2 separate regions of the Homo sapiens genome follow, and region 1 is linked to region 2. A link means that fine-mapping ties the variant in region 2 to the expression of a gene that starts in the linked region. Tissue or cell type: whole blood. Region 2 holds a variant in brackets; the other region holds the start of a gene. All regions are shown on one strand. Distances are from middle to middle.

Evidence for each region. PIP is the estimated chance that this variant, and not a neighbour inherited with it, causes the effect.
Region 1: it holds the start of DCHS1, and the variant in region 2 is fine-mapped to the expression of DCHS1 in whole blood (TOPMed, PIP above 0.99).

The regions. Positions count from the first base shown.
Region 1 is chr11:6,653,348-6,658,347 of GRCh38, forward strand. It overlaps DCHS1 (dachsous cadherin-related 1), which reads right to left and starts at 2,462. Exons shown (of 21, transcript NM_003737.4): 1 at 2,216-2,462.
Region 2 is chr11:6,670,169-6,680,948 of GRCh38, forward strand. It overlaps MRPL17 (mitochondrial ribosomal protein L17), which reads right to left. Exons shown (of 3, transcript NM_022061.4): 3 at 10,217-10,780. Among named protein-coding and RNA genes, the nearest start is that of MRPL17, 7.8 kb to the right of the region's middle. RefSeq lists an enhancer at 3,619-3,668. The variant G/C (reference allele first, on the strand shown) is at 8,028.

The DNA.
Region 1 (5,000 bases), 20 kb before region 2:
GGCCTAGGTTACTCTGCTGTGTGCTGCTGTGTTACAACACTCACTCCACAGCCTGTAAGCTCCATGAGGATAAGGACCATGTCCATTTTGTTCACACTTGTGCTGCCAACTCTCATCACAATGCCTAGCAGAGTAGGTGCCTAGTATGTGTTTGTTAAATGAATGAATTAGCGTTTTGATTAATTAATCTACTGAAAACAATGGTGTGAGGGATGTGGGGTAATGAGTGTGAAGAAAATAGAAAAAAAATCATCTATTTATTTATGAAGGGCCCAGTTGAGGTTTGAATTTTTTAGAAGTATGAATTTATAGAAGCGTCCCCTGGTGTGGTTGAGAAATCATTCTAGTTAGGGGCAATAATTTGAGGGATGAGTATAGAAGACAAGGAAACACAGTGGCCAAGGAGTGGTTGAAGGGATGATCCTTAGCATATGAGCTGGAAAGAAAGCACAAAGTCAGAAAGGAACAGAGTAGGAGAAAACAAAGAGGTCAAGGGCAAGAGGTCATTATGAGGTCAAAGAGTGTAATGGGAGCGAGAACATCTGAAAGCTGGAAGGATATAGGAGGTTGTGGGTAGAGAGAGGAATGCAAGAGTTTAGAATTTTAAAGGTGGAATAGTTCTACAGAGTGGTCCTGGGAGGGAGGAAGGTAACAGGAGCTAAGGAGGTCAAGAATCTGTGAAGCTGTGGTGTTGAAGGACACTGAGAAACCATGGCAGGATACACTATCCAGATCTCGAAGTTTTCAGGGAACAAGAGGGTATACCTGGGAGATCTACGTATGAGAAGGGGTGAAGGTGTGAGCTTGATAAGTTAAGCAGAGTTTATTCAGAAGTTGGGACAGGTCTTCCTGTGGTGTGCATGCCATCCATGACTGTCTCCTGGGGGTTGTACAAGTGGCTGTGTGGTAAGGGCAACTGTGGCACAGCCTCCTGTTAGTGACAGGCTTCTAGGACACCCACTATGTATGGGCAGCTCCAAGGAAGTAAACCTAATAAGATGTGCTGTGACAGTTGTGACAGTGCTTCTGATGGATGTGGATTGCAGTGACAATGTCTCCTGAGAGGTGCTGGTCTACTTGTTTGTTGCTGGTGACAGTGTTTCTGGAGAGTGTTAGCAGTAACAATGTCTTCCATGGTATGTGTTGGCCTTGACAATGAACCGGTGGGAGTATGTTGGTTGCAGCATTTCTCCTGTGGGTGTGTGTTGTCATGAGAGCATTTTCCGTAGGTGTGTGTTGGCTTGATAGAGTCTGCTGTAGGTGTGTGTTGGTTCTGACTGGGGGTGCTTCCTGGGGGTGGGCTTCCTGGAAGTGTATGATGGCTGTGAGGGTATCTCTTGAGGATGTGTGTTCCCTGGGACTGTGTCCTCTTGTGGGTTGAGTAGGGCTATGACTGTGTCCCTATGGGTATTTGAGAAGTTGACATAAGCGACAATATTTTTCTGGCCTATGACCTTGTGGCTGTGGGCCCAGCCCGCCACACTGAGTTCATTGTGCTTCTAGACCTCCCTCTCCCCACCCCCTCCACGTGGGACCCACGCCTGCGGTGACCTTGCTCTGTCCCCTGCACGGGATTCTGAGCTGGGTATCCCAGACACAAACTCCCAGTTGCTCCAATCTCCCACTCAGAACACGTCTGGGTGACCCCCCCCTCCATCCACTTCAGGCTGTGCCTGCCTCTCCTCTGCTTCTCTGTACTTCTCCCCACTCAGTTTCTTTGTCTCTGTCTCAGTTGGTCTCTGTCACACACCCATCCTCCACATTCTGACACATGGGCTCCCACAGAGCGGGCAACACACCCTCACAGGGACTCGCTCACCATGACACACGGTCATTCTGACCCTCACACCCTCAGAGTGACACGCACATGCACACACAGCCAGAGAGACGCCCAGGGACACACAACCTCCCAGTGACACGCACTGACACACTCCGACGATGCACTGGAACACAACGCTGTCGCACCCCACACCCCCGGCGCACGCTCCCGCCGCCACCCTCCCCGACTCGATGACACACGCACACAAAGACCCCCAGGCCCTGCCCCCACGCTCACGTTCACGCCCGCCCGGGTCCCGCAGGCCCAGGCCCCCCCTCCCCCATTGTCTCCGGCTCAGAACAAAGCCCCCGGCTCCGCCGCCGCTGCCGCAGCCCAGGGGAGGCCGGCGGGCAGGGCGGGCGCGGCCAGACGGGCCGGGCGGGCGCGGGCACTGACCTCCGCGCGACGCGGGCTCCCTCGCCCGGTGCTGGGGCGCCGTCCGGCCGCGGTCAGCCCCCCGGGCAGCGCCCGCTCGCGCGGGGCCTGAGGCCGCGCATCGTCCGCAGTCGCTGTCTCCGAGGCCCGCGATCCCCTCCGGGCAGCCGCCGTCGGTCCGCGCGCCCTTGGCCGTCGATCGGTCCGTCCGCTGACGCCCGGGCGCCGCCTCCTGCACAGCCGCCCCGCCGAGGATGCGAGCTCCGCTGCCGCGGCCCCGCGCCCCCTCCCCTCCCCTCCCCCCGCCCTCCGCGCGGTAACCCGAGCCCCCGCCCCTCCGCCCGCGGAGCCCCCGCCCCCGCCCCCACCCGCGCTCCGCGCCGCCGCCCCCCCTTCCCCCCGGCGCCCGCCCGGCCTCCCTCCGCCCCTCCACTTCCCGGCCCCAGGCCCCGGCTCCGGATCCGGCCCCAGCGCCGCGCCGCGCCCCCGTCCCGGTTCCCTTCCCTTCTCCCCGTCACTTCTCCCGTCCTCTCCTCCCATTCGGTTCTCTACGCCCTCTCGTCTCTTCCCCTTCTCGCCGCTCCCTGCTGCTCACCTCCTCCTCTTCCATCTTCTTTCCATCCCCTATTCCCCTCTTCTCCCTCAGTGCCCTGGTCTCCCTCTCGCCCCTTCTTTTTCCCAACCGTCATCTCCATTCCCCTCTGCCTTTCTCCCATCCTCTTCTTCTCGCCCCATCTCCATCATTTTCTCCCCAGCTCTTCTCCCCTTTCTCTTCTCCTTACCCCTTCTGCTTGATCTCTCTCCAGCCTCTTTACATCAGATTCTCCTTCCCCACCTCTCCTTTTATCCTTTTCTTCCTATCCCTTTCTCCCCGTCTCTTCTCCCCACCTTTCTCCCCATCCCCTTCTCCCTGTGTCTTTCGCCTCACCTCATCATCCCCTTTTCCTCACGCCTTCTCCTCATTCCCTTTTCTCACCCCTGCCCTTTTCACTACCCGCTGTCTCTTCCCCTTCTTCCATCGTAACCTCGGCCTTCTCCCCTGTTAGTCACTTTTCATTATCCCATGATTTCTGTCTCTTTTCTCTCCTTCACCCCCAGGCTCCCTTTCCCCCACTTTCTCTTTATCCCAAATTTGAGGGTAGAGATCGGGAGATATTGGAAAGAAGAGCTTTGGGGATGGTGGTCCCACTCACGATATACTCCCTAGAAAAATTAAGTGAGGAGGAAACCGGGCAGGGAAGTGGGAAGGGGCTCAAAAAACCAACTTGGGAGAGAATATGGGGAGAGGGGAAATCAGACAGAGACAAAGAGCAAGCAATCTTAAAGGAACTGGGAAGAGTTCTGACTCCTGTCCTTCTTCCTTAGGACTGCGAGTAGACTGTGAGAAAAACAGGTTTTCTGGACTTGAGATGTGTACAAATGGCACAAAGAAATCAGGAACTTCTGTGGAGAAGGAACACAGTTTCAGCTGAAGAAGAAGGGAGTGTGATTTTGGAAGAGGAGTGAGGGAGAGACTGGGGTCCTTGATCATATCCACGGCGCTTGGGCAGCTGGGTGGATGGATGGTGGTGAGGCTGGCTGTGCTCCACAAAAGGAGCAGCAGGAGGCTGCAGGGGGTTCGTATGAGGAGATGATGACTGTGACTTGGGGCTGCTGACTTTGAAGTGCTGGTTGGGTAGGTAGGTCTGCAACTTAGAGGAGCGGTCTGGGATGGACATAAATATTTGGGAGTCATCTGCAAATGCCGTATAAGCTTGAATATAGGGTGAAGTTTTTGCTTTTTTGTTTTTCCAAAATCATCCCTCAGGAAAGAGGGAGTAACCTTATATTTGAGTCCTTACAAGGTCTCTCATATTACAGGGTTTGCTCTCATTTACTTTATTTTGAACAACAAACCACTGGATAGGGCAGTATGGTATGGTGACTAAGCTTGTGGACTCTGGAGCCAGACTCCCTGGCTCGGGGTCCAGACTCTCCTATTTACAAGCTGTGTGGCACTGGGAAAGTTACTTAACTTGTCTCTGCCTCAGTTTTCTCATCTATAAAGTGGGCCTAAGGATTAAATTATGTAATATATATAAAGCACTATATACCTGGCACTATATGGTAAGTGTCCAATAAATGCTAACTATTTTTACTGTTTGGCTAAGACCCATTGACCTGAAATGTCCTCAACAATGCTATTTTGGATGTATTGTAGTCAAAGAAATTTAACACAGCTTTGGTAACTATTCCTGGTAGTATGACCTCATAATCGCATGTGTTGGATGTCTCAAAATATGCTTTTTAAAGATTGCTTTAAAAAGCAATACAGTAGTACTTGGAAGAGGTTTCTGGGCTGCCGAAAATGTTCTATTTCTTGACCTGAGTGGTTATATGGACCTGAGGGATGTTTCACTCTGACAGTTCATTGAGCTGAATATTTATGATGGCTTGTGGCCTTTTCCATATAGATGTTATATTTCAGTAAAAAAAGTTAACAGAAATATAATTTTTAAAAAGTATTACATTAAGTGATGTTTTGAAGTCATGAATATACTCAGGCAGGGTGCATGCAAAAAACCAACTGTTCTAGTGTGATGCAAAGGAAACTTGTGACTTAGGATAAAGTTTCCAAGGACTGCATCATCTGTGAATTCAAACTGTGCTGTGTCCTCTCCCAAGCCCTTCGCTTAAACTGAAGAGAAGGACATCTGTTCTGGGAAAACATGTAAGATGGCTGAAAAAGTGATCCTAATGATGAGAAAGACACTGCTTGTGTTGAGTATGCATAAAATTGCTTCATAATTTATGAGAATGGAAAAGA
Region 2 (10,780 bases):
TATTTGTTTTAGGCATTTGAATCATAAATGTCTGAAATGTGTATCACACACAAAACTGACATTCAGTGGAGTTTGACTGAAATCCACTGTGCAATGAGTCTAATGAAGAAACTGGTAAAACTAAAACTAAACTAAGTCAAACTGAAATCAGTTGCAAATCTTAAATAATAGAATCCATAAAGCTGTTAAACTTTTCCATGCAACACAATTGCCATAAACTTTATAAATTGCTGATATAAACAAATTTTTGAATGGATAATTTCACTAAATTAGATATTGGTGTCCAAAAGCAGATTTTTCTAAGTTGGTAAATTTGGAAAATTTGGCGAATTGGACTTTGGGTAGCTTGGTCATTGGGTGAATTGTCTTCAGTAAATACTCTTTCAACTAATTGCCTAGTTTGTGGGTACAGATAAGGATCACGAGGACAGGAAATTGAGAGAACTTTGCCTACAGACTCCTTTTTCTTTTTTGCAGAATAGGCAGTGAGGTTAAGTGCTGACAGAGGTGAAGGTGAAGTAGAGGGTTTAAGAAAAGTGGAGAAAGGCTCGGCGGGGTGGCTCATGCCTGTAATCTCAGCACTTTGGGAGGCCGAGGTAGGTGGATCATCTGAGGTCAGGAGTTTGAGACCAGCCTGTCCAACGTGGCAAAACCCTGTCTCTACTAAACACACACACACACACACACACACAAACACACACAAATTAGCCAGGTGTGCTGGTGCATGCCTGTAGTTCCAGCTACTCAGGAGGCTGAGGTAGGAGAATCGCTTGAACCTGGGAGATGGAGGTTGTAGTGAGCTGAGATCATGCCACTGCACTCCAGCCTGGGTGACAGAGTGAGACTGCATCTCAAAAAAAAAAAAAAAAAAAAAAAAAAAAAAAAGTGGAGAGAGTTTGCAGGAGTCAATGAGGTGATGGAATTGGACAACCCAAGCTTGCTGAGTTGTGTTCAGGACCCAGCTCTGTTGGTGACAATTCCAATGGTTGTTGATGCTTCTTGTTTCTAGGAGTGTTCAGTGAAGAAGGCACAGGAGTAGAGAATCTGGTGATTAGTATGTAGGTGGGAGAAAAAGACAACGGGTTCAACAGGGCATGGCATGAGAATGGTGGTGTTGGCTCATGACATCCAGGCTGAGTTGAAAAAGAAGAAAGGCCTGGTAGACAAAAGGGTAAAAGAGAGAGTCCAAAGGACTGGAGTTTCAAGAGGTTAGAGGTTTAACATCTGAGTGTAAGGGGATGAGGGAGCCAGAGACAAGAAGCTGGGTTTACAGAGTGAGATTCTGGAGGGCAAAATTTCAGGGGTAAAGCAGATCTCATCAGGAAAGGGCCAGAGGCCTGGTAAACAGAGTGGGCTGGTTGGATGGGTTACTGGAGGTGAGGACAATGTAGAACAGTGGGGCCAGAGACTTGGATGGAGCAACTACATGGATGGGGCAAGCACATGGATGGAATGATAGCAGGTCTTGGGATGGTGAGCAAGACTCTGAGACTAAGACTTCACTGAATCTGTGAGTGATTAGGAGCTGTCTTCTCCCAACCCCAAACTCCATTAGCCCAGCATGAATGAACCATCCTGTCATTAAAAAGGTGGGACGGGGAAGGGAATCTTGTTCTCGAGTGTTTGCAGAACTTCTCTAGAGAGGTCTTTACCTTCCTGTATTTGCTTCTATCTCTGCCAGCTCCGTATTGACTACTCAGTCAGGTTTTGAATTCATGTTCTCTCAATCTTCTCTAGACCCATCCTGTTAGGTCTCTGACCGAATTTAATGATTCTTTTTTTTTTTTTTTTTTTTTTTACTAGCTGTGGAGTATATACTGTGCATGCTTTCTCCTGAAAAGTAGACATGCTTAAACTGCAACCTTGCCAACTGACTTCCTGCCGGTTGGGCTAAAAGATGCCCTAGGATCCTTATCCCTTAGCAGCTAAGGCCGAGACCATTAACAGGAAGTGGTAAAACCAATGTCCTGAGTCCCAAAAGATAAGGGACTTTACACAAAAATGGAGGAGCTATGGAAGCAACAATAAGGAATGAGAAGAAAGCTCCCTTTCTTCTTGCTCTCAACCCAAGATTTTGGATTTTCCCCTCAATTTACACATACCCTTTAAGTGTCTATCTGTACAAATGAATGACCTTGCAAAAAAAAAAAAATCCCCAAAATGGACTTTTTAAATGTGACTCCCTTTCAAGTTGCTGATGTGTCTCTGCCTTGTCTTCCCTTTTCATGGTCACCAAACTTCTTGAGCTGTATTTATGGTTTCTGCTTTTGCCCCTCTGAAGAGACAACTCTATCAGAGGTCAATAGTGAATGTCCTAATTTCCAAGTCCAATGGCCAAAGATAGTCTTTAAACCAATACTCTGGAGCCTGGCCAACGTTAGGTTCTGAGAATACAAAATTAACTATTGTATGCCCCCCAATAACTCACAATCTACTGGGGGAGATAGACTCAAATTGACATTTTCAACACTCTGTTCCTCTGGATTTTGAGACAGCAGTGTTCTAGTTGTAGTGCTCCTTTTCAATCCCCTAAGAGGGCTACTCTCTCTTTCTCTGTCTTTCTGTCTCTCTCTCTCTCTCTCTCTGGCCTTTGTATGTTGGCTCTATGCTAGGACTCTTTTTTTTCTCCCCCTATATTTCCTGTCTGAGAAATCTCATCTAAACCAATTGCTCCATTTCCCATGTATGTGCGTATGACTCTCAAGTTTGAATTGCTAGCTTACCTCTATCCTCTGAGCTCCAGAACAATTGTTAACAAGACAGTTCCTTAACACGAGTATATTTACAACCAAGTTCATCACTGTAACTCCTGATCTACTTCCCCTCTTACTTATCCTCATTCTCTGTGAATATGTGAATAGAATTTCTCTACCCAACTACCCAAACAGAAACCTGGTGTTATCCTCGACTCTTAATTTCTCCTCCACCTCATGTAATCACATACAATGTGTCTAGCCTATTCTACCTTTTCTATGGCTGTTTGTTCTGTCAGCTTCTCTAGGTTTTCCCTGTTTTTGGCCTAATCTGGGTTTCCAACTCCACTTAGACTCCTTAACTAGCTTCCTATTTGGTTTACCAGCTTCTAATCTTTTTTTTTTTATTTTTATTTTTTTATCAGCTTCTAATCTTGTCCCTCTCACCTATCTTACAGTCTGATGCAAGAATGATCTTTCTGAAATGTTAATCTTATCCCTCTTTTCTCCATTTAAAAATACTGGTGGCTTCCCTTAGTCTTCAGGATAAAATCCAAACACTTTATCATATCTTACAGGGTCCTTTGTAACCTGGTCTTGCCTGGCTTTCCAGCTTCTCTTCCTTTACTTTTTCCTCAAATCTTAAATCCCTGCTGTGCCAAATTAATTGGAATTTCTCAACCACTCTATACCATTTCATAATTCAATGCATCTACAGATCTTGCTGCATGGAATGCCCTCCAAACTAATTTCTTTCCCCAATGCTTGATGAGTTCCTAATCATTCTTCAAGATTCAGCCCTAGCATTGTTTATTTTGAGAAGTTCTGCATGGACCACTTCCTTTCTTGGTACTCCAGTAGGCCTCAGGTGCAACCATGTTCATAGTATCTGTTTTACTATGTTGTACTTATTTATGATCTGTCTCTCTAACTGGTCTTTTGGGCCTTTGAGGGGTCATTCCAATATTTCAAAGCATAGTGCTTTGGAGGGAGAAATATGCTTGCTAAGTTAACTGATTAATTATTGAGTGCCTCCTATGACAAAGAAGACACAAGCTGGGTACTGTGATGAATTTTGCAGGTTCCCTTTCCTCTCTTAAAAAATTCTCAGTCTCCTTCAAAAGTTCTCTATCCTGTCTGTTCCCTACTGCCTGACCTCAGCCTCCTCTTGCTCTACATATATACTCTGAGTCACTCTATCCATTTATTTAGCTTTAATTGCTGACAACTCCCAAATTTGTTCTTCCAGCAAAAACCTCTTTCTCAAGCTCCAGATGCTTCCAGGCATCTCAAATGCAGCACATATGAAACTGAACTATCTTCTTTTTCTTTTTATTCCTTCTGGGATAAAAGGAGAAGTAATTGTAGGAAAGGTTATGAAACCATTTTACGGAAAAGTAGTTAGAAATTAAGCCAGGACAATGTCATTAAGTCTTCAGTGACATCCCTAGGTACAGCTTTTGTGTTTTCATCTCCTTTTGTGTTTTCAAGTGAATAGCAGAAAAACCCTTTAATGGTGTGCTTCCTGTACTGGGCTACACAGTGGTGTACCAAGGTATATATGAAACCACAGTGTAAACAAGGCTTGTCTTCCCAAGACATCAATTTTGATAGAAAATTGTGTGTGTTCATGTGTGTGTGTGTGTCTGTGTGTAATGTACAATATTTAACTTGTGAGAATTAAAAATCTTATTTTTCTATTAAACAGATATGTTGTGGAACAGAATGCAAAAATGTCAGAAAAGTTTAGTTCTTTCCTGGAAATGTAAGCACACAAACCATTTCTATTATTAAGATATCTCAGATTTAACTACCAAATTTAAGGCTGGGCTCAGTGGCTCACGCCTGTGATCCCAGTACTTTGGGAGGCCGAGGCGGGTGGATCACCTGAGATCAGGAGTTTAAGACCAGCCTGACCAACATGGTGAAACACCGCCTCTACTAAAAATACAAAAATTAGCCAGGCCTGGTAGCAGGCACCTATAATCCCAGCTACTTGGGAGGCTGAGGCAGGAGAATTGCCTCAAAAAACGAAAACGAAAACAAAACGAAAACATCAATAACTAACAAATTTATATCCCAGAAACTAAAGGAGAGCTACACTATGCCCATGCATTTAAGAGCACAGAGAGGAAAGCCTTAAGGGTACAGATATTACCCAGGCATGAACAATAGGGAATCAGCTTTGCAGGAAGTTCTTTTTTAGATGAAGAAGGAGGAAACAGGAGAAGGGAGGAGTCAGTGAGTCCAAAAGACAGAGCTAAGCAGAAGAACTCAGTATAACACATTGATTCATTCAACAGACATTTATAGATGTCTATTTTGCCTCATGTTCTTTACAGGGTGGTGGGAAAAGTGAATTAGACGTGTTTGTGCTCTTAAGTAGTTCACTGTTTAGTAATGAGTGCTGAACAATATAATTATACCGTTGTTGTAATGAAGAATGTACAATGTAAAACTGGACTGCAAAAGAAAATAAAGAAAACAGTCCTGTTTATAATAGCATTAAAAAGAATAAAATCTTAAGAATAAATTTAACCAAGGAGGTGAAAAATCTACATACACACACACACACAAAGATCTATACACTTGTATACATATGTAACAAACCTGCATGTTGTGCACATGTACCCTAAAACTTAAAGTATAAAAAAAAAAAGATCTATACACTGAAAACTATGAGGTGCCAATGAAAGAAACTGAAAAAGAACAAATAGCTGGAAATACATCCCATGTTTATGGATTGGAAGAATTAATAATATTAAAATGTCCATGTTACCCAAAGTGATCTACACATTCAATTCAATCCCTATGAAAATTCCATGGCATTTTTCATAGATGTAGAAAAAAGTCCTAAAATTAGTACAGGACAACAAAAGACTACAAATAGAATAAATAATCTTGATAAAGAACAAAACTGGAGGCATCACCTTTGCTGATTTCAAACTACATTCAAAGTTACAGTAATCAAAACATTATGTACCATACTGTTTTGCATGTACAACTTAAACATAGACACACAGACCAATAAAACAGGATAGAGAACTCAGAAATAAACCCATGCATGTATGGTCATGTGGTCAACTGATCTTTTTTTCTTTTTTTTTAATAGGGTCTTGCTGTGTCGCCCAGATTGGAGTGCAGAGGCACAATCTTGGCTCACTGCAGCCCTGACTTCCCGGGCTCAAGTGATCTTCCCATCTCAGCCTCCTGAGGAGCTGGGACTACAAGCACACACCACCACATTCAGCTAATTTTCTTGATTTTTTTTTGTAGAGATGAGGTCTCCGGATGTTGCCCAGCCTGGTTTCAAACTCTTGTGCTCAAGTGATCCTCCTGCCCCTGCCTCTCAAGGTGCTGGGGTTACAGGTGCGAGCCACCATGCCCAACTGGTCAACTAATCTTTGATGAGGCACCAAGAATACACAATGAGGAACAAAAATCCCTTCAATAAATAGTATTGGGAAAACTGGATAGACATATGCAAAATGACAAAAATGGACTTTTGTATTACACCATATAAAAATGAATTTGGAATGGATTCAAGACTTAAATGTAAGATGTGAAACTGTAAAACTCTTAGAAGAAAACATAGGGGAACAGCTCCTTGACATTGGCCTTGGCAATGATTTTTCAGATATGACACGAAAAGCATAGGCAAACAAAATAAAAATAAACAAGTTGTACCACATCAAACTAAAAGGCTCTGTACATCAAAGGAAACAACAAAATGAAAAGGTAACTTACCGAATGGGAGAAAATATTTGCAAACCATATCTGATAAGGGGCTGATATCCAAAATATATAAGGAACTCACACAACTCAATAGCAAGAAAACACAAAAAATCTGATTTGAAAATAGGTAAAGGATCTGAATAGATATTTTTCTAAAGAAGAAATACATGAAAAAGTGTTCAGCACCACTAATCATCAGAGAAATGTAAATCAAAACCATAATGAGAGATCATCCTACACTTGTTAGCATGGCTGTTATAAAAAAAGATAAGGGATGACAAGTGTTGGTGAGGATGTGGAGAAAGGGGAACACTTGTACACTCTTGGTGGGAATGTAAATTGGTACAGCCACTATGGGAAACAGTAGTATGAAGGTTCTTCAAAAAATTAAAAATAGAACTACCCTATGATCCAGCAATACCACTTCTGGGAAACAAAATCAGGATCCTGAAGAGAGATATCTGCATTCCCATGTTCACTGCAGCCTTATTTACAATAGCCAAGATACAGAAACAATCTAAGTGTCTGTCGACACATAAATAGATAAAGAGAATGTGGTATATTTATATACAATGGAATTGTATTTAGCCATAAAAAAGGAAATCCTGCTATTCATGACAACGTGGATAAACCAGAAGAACATTATGCTAAATGAGTCAGTTAGACACAGAAAGAAAATTACGTATGAGCTCATTTATATTTGAAATGTAAAAACATTGAACTCATAGAAACAGAGTAGAACAGTCATTGCCAGGGTCTGAGGTATGAGGGAAATAGAGATGTTGATCAAAGGGTCTAAACTTTCAGTTATAAGATGAACAAGTTCTGGAGATCTAATGTACAGCATACGTGGTGATGGATGTGTTAACTAAAAAAAAAAAAAAAAGAAATTGGATCATTGGAATAGTGCTGAGTTTTGCTTGGGTAATTCTGTCAACACTTTACAAAAAACGCAACCTTTCAGCTTTTGGCTAGTCTTGGAAAATTTATAGGTGTTTTCTATCTGTGGATTGGTTAGAAATATTCCAGAAAATTGGAATATAAAATGTGTGGGAAATGAATTAGAAATATGCTCACATTCTTGACAATCATTATAAGCATTTAAGTTCTGGAAGAGGAAGGAGACCATTTCTTTTGCTTGGTATACTCAGTAGTGTAGCTTAACCCTATCTCTACATGTGGTACCATGTTTATTGTTTGTAAAGCTCAGCCAGAGAGTTGAATATGGCATGGATGTAGCTTACTCCTCCTTATTTAATGAACATATATTGAGCACCTATTTTGTATCAGGCCTTATGATAGAGTTATCAAGAATGAGTCCCAATCTCTGGCTTCAGCAGTTTGGCTGAATGAAGGGATCAGTTAAGTAGACAGGCAACTAGTTAGGTGTATGCCCACAGGATTATAAATAACAGTACACAAGAGAGGCCTGAGCCCATTTGGACGGTGATGTGGAGTTTGGGGCCTCAGAAAAGTGACTTCTGAGCAAATATTTGAATGACAAGTAGGAGTGGACTTGAAAGAGGGCAAGCATTATAGTAGAGGGAACATCATACACCAAGTAGTAATATAGTCAGAGAATAACAAGGAGTTTCTCAT[G/C]AAGGGTGGCTGCAAATAGTGGTAGGAAAGGAGGCTGAGAAGTGGCCGGGACCAGGTCATAGATGACCTTTGTGTCATTAAATGTCTGGATTTTTATCCAGCGAAGGCGGTGGTTAGTCACTGGAATACTGGCTATGAAGAGTGTTTTTCAAAGAGTAGATTATAATCCATTAGTGGGTTGTAAAATCAATTTAGTGAATTGGGGCCAGCATATAAAAGGTGAACAAGTAGAAAATATGAGGGTAGATCATATTTGTAAAGGTAAATAACATTTTATGAAGATTTTGTTTCAATCATTTATGTTTATGGATAATCTGTTCTGATGTAAAATGTTTTTTGACCTGTAGGTCACAGTCACAATTTTTGAGAAGCACTTGTTTAAAGGTTCAGTGTTACACAAATTATCAGATTACTTTTAGTAGTAATTAACAGAAAATTCAGATCCAAATGGGAATAATCACTAAAAAAGATTATTATTCCAACGTAACTAGGATTCCAGTTTGGGAGCTCTTGGTGCTGTAGTTTTAGTTGTTTTTTTTTTTTTTTTTTTTTTTTTATACTTTAAGTTTTAGGGTACATGTGCACATTGTGCAGGTTAGTTACATGTGTATACATGTGCCGTGCTGGTGCGCTGCACCCACTAACTCGTCATCTAGCATTAGGTATATCTCCCAATGCTATCCCTCCCCTCTCCCCCCACCCCACAACAGTCCCCAGAGTGTGATATTCCCCTTCCTGTGTCCATGTGATCTCATTGTTCAATTCCCACCTATGAGTGAGAATATGCGGTGTTTGGTTTTTTGTTCTTGCGATAGTTTACTGAGAGTTTTAGTTGTTCTAATCTGCCACTCTCAGTGTTATCTTCTGCCTAAAGCCAGTTCCCCAGTGGCACTTAGAATAACATGCCAATTTATTCATCTAGGCAGAATAGAGCTTAGATTCTCACTGCCTTAACTTAGTTTAGGCCTGTCCACTACAACCCATTCAGGAACTAATCTACTGTAGGAAACTGTAATGCAATGTGGCAAATTCAGTGTATTATCGAAACATAGAGCACCTCAGCTGACGAAGTCATGAATTTAGCTGTGGGGATGGGCGGGGAGCCACCTAGGTGATACCAAAAGTTTGTGTGTAAGTTACATAGGTAAAAGAGAGAAGGCTGTCTGCACGGCAGGGACTGCTTTAACAAAAGGTTGTGGACAGGGGAGCTGTGCACAGGGAAACATCCAAAATAGGAACTTTTATGCTTCTAGAGCATAGCATTTAGAGGCAAAGGAAGTAGTTGGAGTGATGAGTAGATGCCTGAACAAGGAGGGGAGTCATGATAAGGATCCCATAGGAAATAAGCAACTGGAGATCATCACCAGGGAATTAAGATGATCAGATTCCCGTCAGTACAGCCAAAGTGTAGAGGGAGGTAAGTTAGGAGGTTGTTGAAGTAACCCAGGATAGAGGTATCTTGGATTTCTTACTAGGGAGCAAGTTGACTGCAGATTTGAGAAACATTACGGAAATAAACATGACTTGTTAATTTCAGTGTCAATGAGGGTAAGGAAATAATCTCTGACTTTTCTAGTCATCTCCCCAAGATATCAGGCTTACAGTGTATTAACTGTAAAGCCTAAACTTGTTACCTTTTGAGAAAGGAGTGATCATTACTTTGTCTACCTTACTGTAAAGAACTGGCGCCCAAGACGGTGGGAACCTTTGAGAGTGGTGCTCTTGGGTTTGGAACGCATTAAAGAGGTGCCTAGATGGACTTGGGGGGAGCAGTCCACTAGTTGAAGAAGTTATTTATAAGCCAGATTAGTAAAATTCTTTTTTTTTGAGACAGAGTCTCGCTCTGTTGCCCAGGCTGGAGTGCAGTGGCACAATCTCAGCTCACTGCAAGCTCCGCCTCCCAGGTTCACGCCATTCTCCTGCCTCAGCCTCCTGAGTAGCTGGGACTATAGGTGCCCGCAACCACGCCCAGCTAACTTTTTGTATTTTTAGTGGAGACGGGGTTTCACCGTGTTAGCCAGGATGGTCTTGATCTCCTGACCTTATGATCTGCCTGCCTTGGCCTCCCAAAGTGTGGGGATTACAGGCGTGAGCCACCGCACCCGGCAGTAAAATTCTTGATGCTGTTACTTTCCTTGTGTTATCCCTGAGCCTTTAGCAAATGTTTTAGGATTCATGTACTTTTATTTGGACCAAAACATTAAAGGGGAAGCAGTGTCCCTTGAGGCCACTGTGGTAGTGGCAGTGGCCTGTTATTGTGAGCTCATTGATGGTACAGGTTGTTTCTTATCTCTAGTCTCTATTAGATGAACAGTGGATATTGTATCCCTTCTGCCTAAATTGATGCTGGGAACTAGCAGATGCTCAAAAAGCATGTAGGGAACTGTTGGAAGTCCCAAAGGGAGATATATTTCTGGGGTCTAAGAGGAAAAGCTACAGGAGCCCAGCCACAATCCATCTATTTAAAATAAAGATGTGGTTTTAAGGAAAGTGGTTTCTCTAGAAGTTAGGTATGACTCCTAGATACCTAGCTAGGGTGGATATTCATGCTAAGACAGAAGAGGGGTATATTTTTTAGCAGAAGCAGAGTTGTAGCTTTATTTCATAAATGTTTTGAGTGTCTACTATATTTCATTTAAAATATAAGAGCTTTCTGGCTATAGTGTGAAGAACAAACCATAGTAGAGAAAAAGAGATAAAGAGCTCTGTTGGGAGTAGATGAGTATCAGACTAAGGCAGCTACAGCTAAATTA